2 linked regions of the Homo sapiens genome follow. The protein of the gene in region 1 interacts with the protein of each later gene in a biochemical or structural test. Each region holds a gene or a part of one and is shown on either strand. Other genes may lie near its edges.

What was found.
Region 2: the proteins of LEP (region 1) and CD33 interact in a biophysical measurement, tested with the Homo sapiens proteins (one study listed by IntAct).

Annotation. Positions count from the first base shown.
Region 1 is NC_000007.14:128,244,159-128,247,976, forward strand, and holds part of LEP (leptin precursor), read left to right. Parts: intron 1-3,818. UniProt on the Homo sapiens protein: Key player in the regulation of energy balance and body weight control. Once released into the circulation, has central and peripheral effects by binding LEPR, found in many tissues, which results in the activation of several major signaling pathways.
Region 2 is NC_000019.10:51,228,034-51,231,851, forward strand, and holds part of CD33 (myeloid cell surface antigen CD33 isoform 1 precursor), read left to right. Parts: intron 1-3,818. UniProt on the Homo sapiens protein: Sialic-acid-binding immunoglobulin-like lectin (Siglec) that plays a role in mediating cell-cell interactions and in maintaining immune cells in a resting state.

The sequences.
Region 1 (3,818 bases):
GAGAATTGCTTGAGCCCGGGAAGTCGGGGGTCCAGTGAGCCTTGATCACACCACTGCACTCCAGCCTGAGTGACAGAGCAAGACCCTGACACACACACACACACACACACACACACACACACAGATTAGAGCTGAAACAGGAGTAGAAACCTATCTGTATCTCTGATGAGATCAGATCTTTCTGATGAACAGAAAGAATGTAACCCCTGTACTCACACCCTCTCTGCTGGTTACATATGTTAACACGATTTCTCAAATGAGGCTTTTGGTTGCAAATAAGAGAAAATCACTCACGCTGGCCCTGTGTTTTTCAAATTGTTTATTGTGATCAACATTTGAAAAAAGAGCCGAGACTCTCAAGAGTGCATTACCCACGGTAAGGGTGAATTTTACTTCTTGACACTTATTTCTCTTACATGTATCTATCTGTCTCAAATGAAAAATATATTTAGAAAGTTGAAAGCTATCCAAGTGAGTATAAGAAAAGAGTATCTCACCCTGAAGGCTAAGGACAGGGAGGGCCACCAGGCCTCACGAGGACCCAGGAACCACAAAGAAGGCTAGGAAGGAGCACAGGCGGTGACCATACTCTGGCTCAGTGGCTATGTGGGCTCTGGTCTCTCTCAGCTGTTCCATGCATATGAGGCCAAATGTGGCTACCCTAGAGCTTCTGAGCCCTCAACAGAGATGAACTGGACTCTCTGCAGCCCCACTCTAAATTCCTAAGAGAGAAGTTGATTGACCCAATCAGGGTCAGGAGAAGGAAGGGAGGAGGAAAGGGAGGAGAGAAGAGCCTCTTCGTCTCTTGCCTACCACTGGCCAGGCAATTGTAGCCAAGGGGGCTGGAGTGTAAATGCAAACATAGCCATCAAGGGTTGTGTATGTGTGTGTGTGTGTCTGTGTGTGTGTATGTGTGTCTCTTGGGTAGGTTAGATCTCCCAGGAGGTCCCTACTAAACAGACTTAAGCCCGCAAAATTTTAGCTCTCCAGCCTCACACACTCCACCCCTCTACCATATTGAATCTTCCCAAACCAACTATGGCTTTCCCTAACTCCGGAGCTTGGCCTGGAATGCCCTGCTTCCCCTCTTTCCCCTGGGGAACGCCTGTCCTTCAGGCCTCAGTTCACACACTGCCTCCCTTGCAAAGCTCTCCTCCCATCCCCGGAGTCCCTCTTCCCCTTTGTTCTTTGGGTTCTATGCTTCTTCCCTCATAACTCCCACCAGGTTGTGTTAAAATGAGTTGTTCAAGGTCCTGTCTGTTCCACTAGATTCTGAGCAACTTGGAGAACGAAGATCCAAACTTCGCTGCCTTTATTTCCTCCTTTGTTCTTTTCTCATCCCCAAGTCCCTTCCAACTTGGAGTTATGAAGAAAGGAAGGAAGGAAGGGTGGGAGGGAAGAACAGGAGGGGATCCCACAGGAGAATGTGTATAGGGAGAGGACTCAGACTAGCTAAAGCTTTTCCCTCATAATTAATAGCAAATACCATGTTACCTGAATTTAATTCACAGTAGCATACAAAAGACTCGCTTTGTTCTCCCCATTGATGTCATCAGAGGGCTGTGGGCAGGCCTAATCTTGGCTCAGGAGGCCCTCCAGCCTGGATCTAAAGAGCAGCAGATGGGCCAGGCTCGGTGGCTCATGCCTGTAATCCCAGCATTTTGGGAGGCCGAGGCGGGTGGATCACGAGGTCAGGAGTTTGAGACCAGCCTGGCCAAGATGGTGAAGCCTCGTCTCTACTAAAAATACAAAAATTAGCCAGGTGCGGTGGTGGGCGCCTGTATTTCCAGCTACCCGGGAGGCTGAGGAGGCTGAGGCAGGAGAATCGCTTGAACCCGGGAGGCGGAGGTTGCAGTGAGCCGAGGTCACGCCACTGCACTCTAGCCTGGGCAACAGAGCAAGACTCCGTCAAAAAAAAAATAAAAAAATAAAAAAATAAAAAAAATAAAGAGGAGCACACATCTCTGCCCATCCTAACTCCCACTTTGACATTGAGGTCCCCAGGATGGAGGGTCTGCCTCCATCTGCCTTGTCCCCTGCAATGGTGGGAAGGTGATGGAGCTCAAGTCTAGAGGCCACCAGCTTCTTAGGGAGGTAGGAGGTGGAGGGTGGGGTGCGGGCCCTGCACACAACTGCCAAGTGAGGATGGGGGTGGGGTCCACCTGAGGATAAGTAACAGTGAGGCTGGTGCAGAGGACCCAGGTGGAGGTAGACAGCAGAATTTGTGGTGGGGTGGATGGCACATTATATAAGCCTCTCTTGCTGCCCTGTTTACTGAGATTGTTTCATTATCTTTTTTGGCTTTTGTTTTTAAGAGATGGGGTCTTGCTGTGTCACACAGGCTGGAGTGCACTGTGTGATCATACCTCACTGCAGCCTCGACATCCTGGGCTCAGGCAAACCTCCCACCTTGGCCTCCCAAGTAGCTGGGACCACAAGCGTTTGCCACCACACTCAGCTATTTTTATTTTTATTTTTATTTTTTTTAGAGATGGGGTCTTGCTGTGTCGCCCAGGCTGGTCTTGAACTCCTGGGCTCAAGCGATCCTCCTGCCTTGGCCTCCCAAAGCCCTGGGATTATAGGCTGAGCCACCACACCCAGCCACATTTCATCTGTGCAGCTCCAGGGGCTCCACATTCTACTCTTCTCATTTCTTCTCCAGGGTACCCATGGCAAGGGATGAGGGTAGAAGATGGGGCAGCCAGGCCTTGATTAAAGGAGAAGGAAGGCAGCCTGTGGAGAGGGCAGCCCAGGGAGTGCAGAGAGAAGTGGGCCATGAGGGAGACAGCAGAGTGCAGGCTGCGTCCCAAATGAGCATACAGCCCACTGTGAGCCCACCATCTTCCTAGAGACCCCTCTCCTCTCCAGGAGCTGCTTCAGTAGCACTCAGAGGAAAGAATGATGCTGTATCAACATTTCAGCAGCTCATCTTTTAACTCTAAGAAAATGGCAGCTCCTAAATGTTCAAAACTGCTTTGGAAACTTCTGGAGAGAGGTTTTGCAGCTCAGGCAGACAGCTGATCGCGGCCTTTCTTCCACCCCAACCCATGCTCTCCCCATGCTCTCCTGCCACAGCTGCAGCGGGCCCCTGGGTCCTACATTTGCAGCCCTTTGTCTCTGAGCTCAGACTTCCAATTCCAAGCGGCAGCTGGGCAGGCTCACCAGCATGTCCAGCCAGTACTAGGACATCAGCAGGAGCCCAACCACCTCTTTCCAAAATCTCTCCTCATGTCTCTCCTAGTTTCCATCTCCATCCTTCTAGTCAGCCAGGCTGAAAACATTTGCTCCTCAGGGTGCAGAAGGGAAAGCTTTGCCTCCCTTCCTGGTGCTCACTGCCCCTGCGATTCCAGCCCAAGCCCTCCCCGGCTCCTCACCCTGGTGTCAGCTGGAAGCCACCATCTCCTAAACCCACCTGTGTTCTTCCACCTCTGCCAGGGCTGCCCTCTCCTCCACCTTCACAAACTCAATTCCTACCCATTCTCAGGTCCCTTATCAAATGCCATCTCCTCCATGATGCCTCCCTGATTCCCCTGCTGGAAATAATGGTGATAACAGCTAAGGCATTGGGGTTGGCTACGTGCCAGGCAAGGAGTTGGCACTTTACATGCTTTATCTCATTTCAGCCACATAACATCGACAGGTGGCATTATGATTCATATCATCCCCATCTGATAGCCAGGAAAACTGAGTCCCAGAGAGGTTAGCCACTTTCCTAGGGCCCTGTGCTCTGACTCAAGCATAGCTCTGAGGAACTCTAGCATTCATCAGTTTAAGCACCATGACTTTCTTTGCTGAGTCACCCAAGGCATTTCTTCATT
Region 2 (3,818 bases), on another chromosome or scaffold:
GGATTAATTTCGGTGTTCTCTATTATGTATTATTGGTGTATGTATCTGCTTTTATGCCAATATCATGCTGTTTTGGTTACTACAGCTTTGTAGTTTTGAAATCTTTAAATTTTTGAAATTTTGAAATTTTCTAGTTTTGAAATTTTGAAATCTTGTAGTGTGATACCTCCAGCTTTGTTCTTTTTTGCTTGGGATTGCTTTGACCATTCAGGCTATTTTTAGTTCCATATGAATTTTAAGATTGTTTCCTCTAATTCTGTGAAGAATTACATTGATATTTTGATAGAGCCAGGTTTGAATCTGTAGATTTCTTTGGGTAGTATAATCATTTTAGCAATATTAATTCATCTGATGAGTAAGGAATGTCTTTCCATTTGTTTGTATCCTCTTCAGTTTATTTCCTCAGTGTTTTGTAGTTTTTCTTATTAAGGCTTGTCACCTCCTTGGTTAAATTTATTCCTAGGTATACTTCATTCTCTTATAGCTATTGTAAATGTGATTGCCTTCCTGATTTATTTTCAGCTAATTCATTGTGTGTAGAAATGCTACTGATTTTTGTATATTGATTTTGCATCCTGCAAATTTACTAAATTCATTTATCAGTTCTGAGAGTTTTATTGTTAGAGTCTTTAGGTTTTTGTTTTGTTTTGTTTTGTTTTGTTTTGTTTTTGAGATGGAATTTCACCATGTTGGCCAAGCTGGTCTTGATCTCCTGGCCTCAAGCAATCTGCCCACTTTGGCCTCCTAAAGTGCTGGAATTACAGGCATGAGCCACCACGCCTGGCCAAGTCTTTAGGTTTTTGTATGTTATTTGCAGAGACAATTTGACTTCCGCCTTTCCAGTTTGGATGGTTTTTATTTCTTTCTCTTGCCTAATTGCTCTGGCTAGGACTTTCAGTACTATGTAAAATAAGAGTCATAACAGTGGACATCCAGTTCCTAGAGGAAAAGATTTCAGCTTTTCTCCATTCAGTATGATGTTAGCCATGGGTTTGTCATATATGGCCTTTTTTGTGTTGAGGTACTTTCCTTCTATACCTAATTTATTGAGAGTTTCTATCATGAAACAATATTGAATTTTAACACATGCTTTTTATTCTGCAACTATTTAGGTGATCATACGGTTTATGTCCTTCATTCTGTTGACATATGTATAACATTTATTGATTTGCATATGTTGAATCATTCTTGCCTTTCTGGGATTAATCCCACTTTATCATGGTATGTTATCTTTTTGATGTATTGTTGGATTTGATTTGCTACTATTTTGTTGAATATTTTTGCATCTATGTTCATCAGGGATATTGGCCTCTAGTTTTCTTTTTTTATTGTCTCCTTTCTGATTTTGGTGTCATGGTTATGCTGGCCTTGTAGAATGAGTTAGGAAGAGTTGCCTCCACTTCAATTTTTTGGAATAGTTTGAGAAGAGTTGGCATAATTTTTTTTTCTTTAAAGGTTCAGTAAAGTTCAGCACTGAAGCCATCCAGCCCTGGAATTTTCTTTGTTGGGGGGCCTTTTATTATTCATTCAATCTCATTACTTGTTGTTTGTCTGCTGAAGTTTTCTATACCTTCTTGATTCAATCTCGGTAGATTATATGTGTCCAGGAACTTATCCATTTCTTCTAGACTTTCAAATTTGTTGGCATATTGTTCATAGTAGTGTCTAAGATCCTGTGTATTTCTGTGGTAACCATTGTGACATCTTCTTTTTTATTTATGATTTTATTAATTTTTATGTCTTCTGTCTCTTTCTTAGTTTAGCTAATGATTGTCAATTTTATTTATTTTTCCAAAAAGCGAACTTGTTCATTGATTTTTTTTTAATTTCATTTATTTCTGCTCTGATCTTTATGATTTCTTTCATTGTGCTGATTTTGGATTTGGTTTGTTCTTGCTTTCTAGTTTCTTGAAATGCACAGTTAAATGGTTTACTTGAAATTTGTCTAATTGTTTGATGTAGGCATTTATTTCTCTCAAGTTGTCTCTTAAAACTGTTTTTGCTGTGTCCCATAGGTTTTGGTATATTTTATTTCTATTTTTATTTATTTTGAGAAATTTTTAAATATCATTCTTAATTTCTTCCTTCACTATTGGTCATTTAGAATCATTTTGTTTCATTTCTGTGTATTTGTATAGTTTGCATGTTTCCCTTGGTATTGATTTTTAGTTTTATTCAATTGTAGTCAAATAAGATACTTGATACATTTTGGTTTTTAAAAATTTTTGGCACTTGTTTTGTGTTCTAACATATGGTCGATCCTTGGGAATGTTGCACATGCTGATGAAACCATGTGTATTCTGCAGCTGTCGGTTGAAATGTTCTGTAAATATCTTAGGTTCATTTGGTATATGGTGCAGTTTAAATCCAACGTTTATTTGTTAATCTTGTCTAGATGATTTGTTCAATGCTGAGAGTGGGGCGTTGAAGTCCTCAACTATTATTGTATTGGAGTCTATCTCTCCCTTTATATCTAATAATATTTGCTTTACATATCTGGGTGCTCTGGTGTTGTGTGCATATGTATTTACAGTTGTTATATTATAGTGCTGAACTGACCCCTTTATAATAATATAATGTCCTTCTTTGTCTCTTTACAGCTTTTGACTTGTAGTCCGTTTTGTCTGAGATAAGTATAGCTATTCCTGCTTCCTTTCATTTCCACTTGGGTAGAATATCTTTTTCCATCTCTTCCTTTTCAGTCTATGTGTGTCTTCTAGGTGAGATAAGTTTCTTGTAAGCAGTATATAGCTGTGTTGGTAGAAGGGCTGAGGCAGGGCTTGCTTGTCTGACATAATGTAAAAGAGTCTTGGAACATGTCCTGGGTCCAGGGTCTCAAACCCCTCGTGGCCTATGGAACACCAAGCTCTGTGCCTAAGGGTGGAAGGCTGCCCTGCCACACTGCAATCTAAGCCCAGGGCATAAAACCCCTCGTGGCTTGGAAAGAATCCAGGGCTCTGGGCATAAAACCCCTCATAGCCTCTGGAATGTGTCCAGACTTGCTGGCCCCTTGCTCCTTGCTCTCCCAGGATCATAAATTGATTGTATCTTGAGTGAAAAGAACTTGTTCTCCATTATTTCAAGTAGCAGAGCATATGCTAAACCGTCACAGCTATGCTTGATGCACCGCTACCTTTCTACCCCAAAGTCCTCACGTTCTCACTTGTCTATCCCCACTTCTGCACGTCCTCACCACCTGCTTCTTTGTTTGATTACCAATAAATAGTGTGGGCTCCCAGAGCTCGGGGCCTTCACAGCCTCCATACTAGCGTCGGCCCCCTGGACTCACTTTATGTACTATTAACTTGTCTTGTCTCATTCCTTTGACTCCGCTGGACTTCGTGGCCCCCACGGCCTAGTGTTGGATCTGATCACCCCAACAAGCTGAGTCTAGATTTTCTTTTCATTCATTCAGGCAGTCCATATATTTTAAATGGGACAATTTAATCCATTTACATACACATTATTATTAATAGGTTATTTTCATTTCATTGATTGTTTTCTGATTGTTTTATATATTCCTGGTTCCTTACTTCCCCTCTTATTGTTTCTTTTTGTGGTTGGCTGATGTTTTTTTTTTTTTTGTAGTGATAAGATTTGATTCCTTTCTCTTTCTTCTTTGTGTATGGGCTGTCAGTGAGTTTTAAGTTCACGTGTTTTTGCCTTTTCACTTCCAGATGTAAGACTCCCTTGAGCATTTCTTTTCTTTTTCTTCTCTTATTTATTTTTATTATTTTTTTTTTGAGAAAGTGTCTCACTCTGTCGCCCAGGCAGGAGTGCAGTGGCATGATCACGGCTCACTATAGTCTCGACCTCCT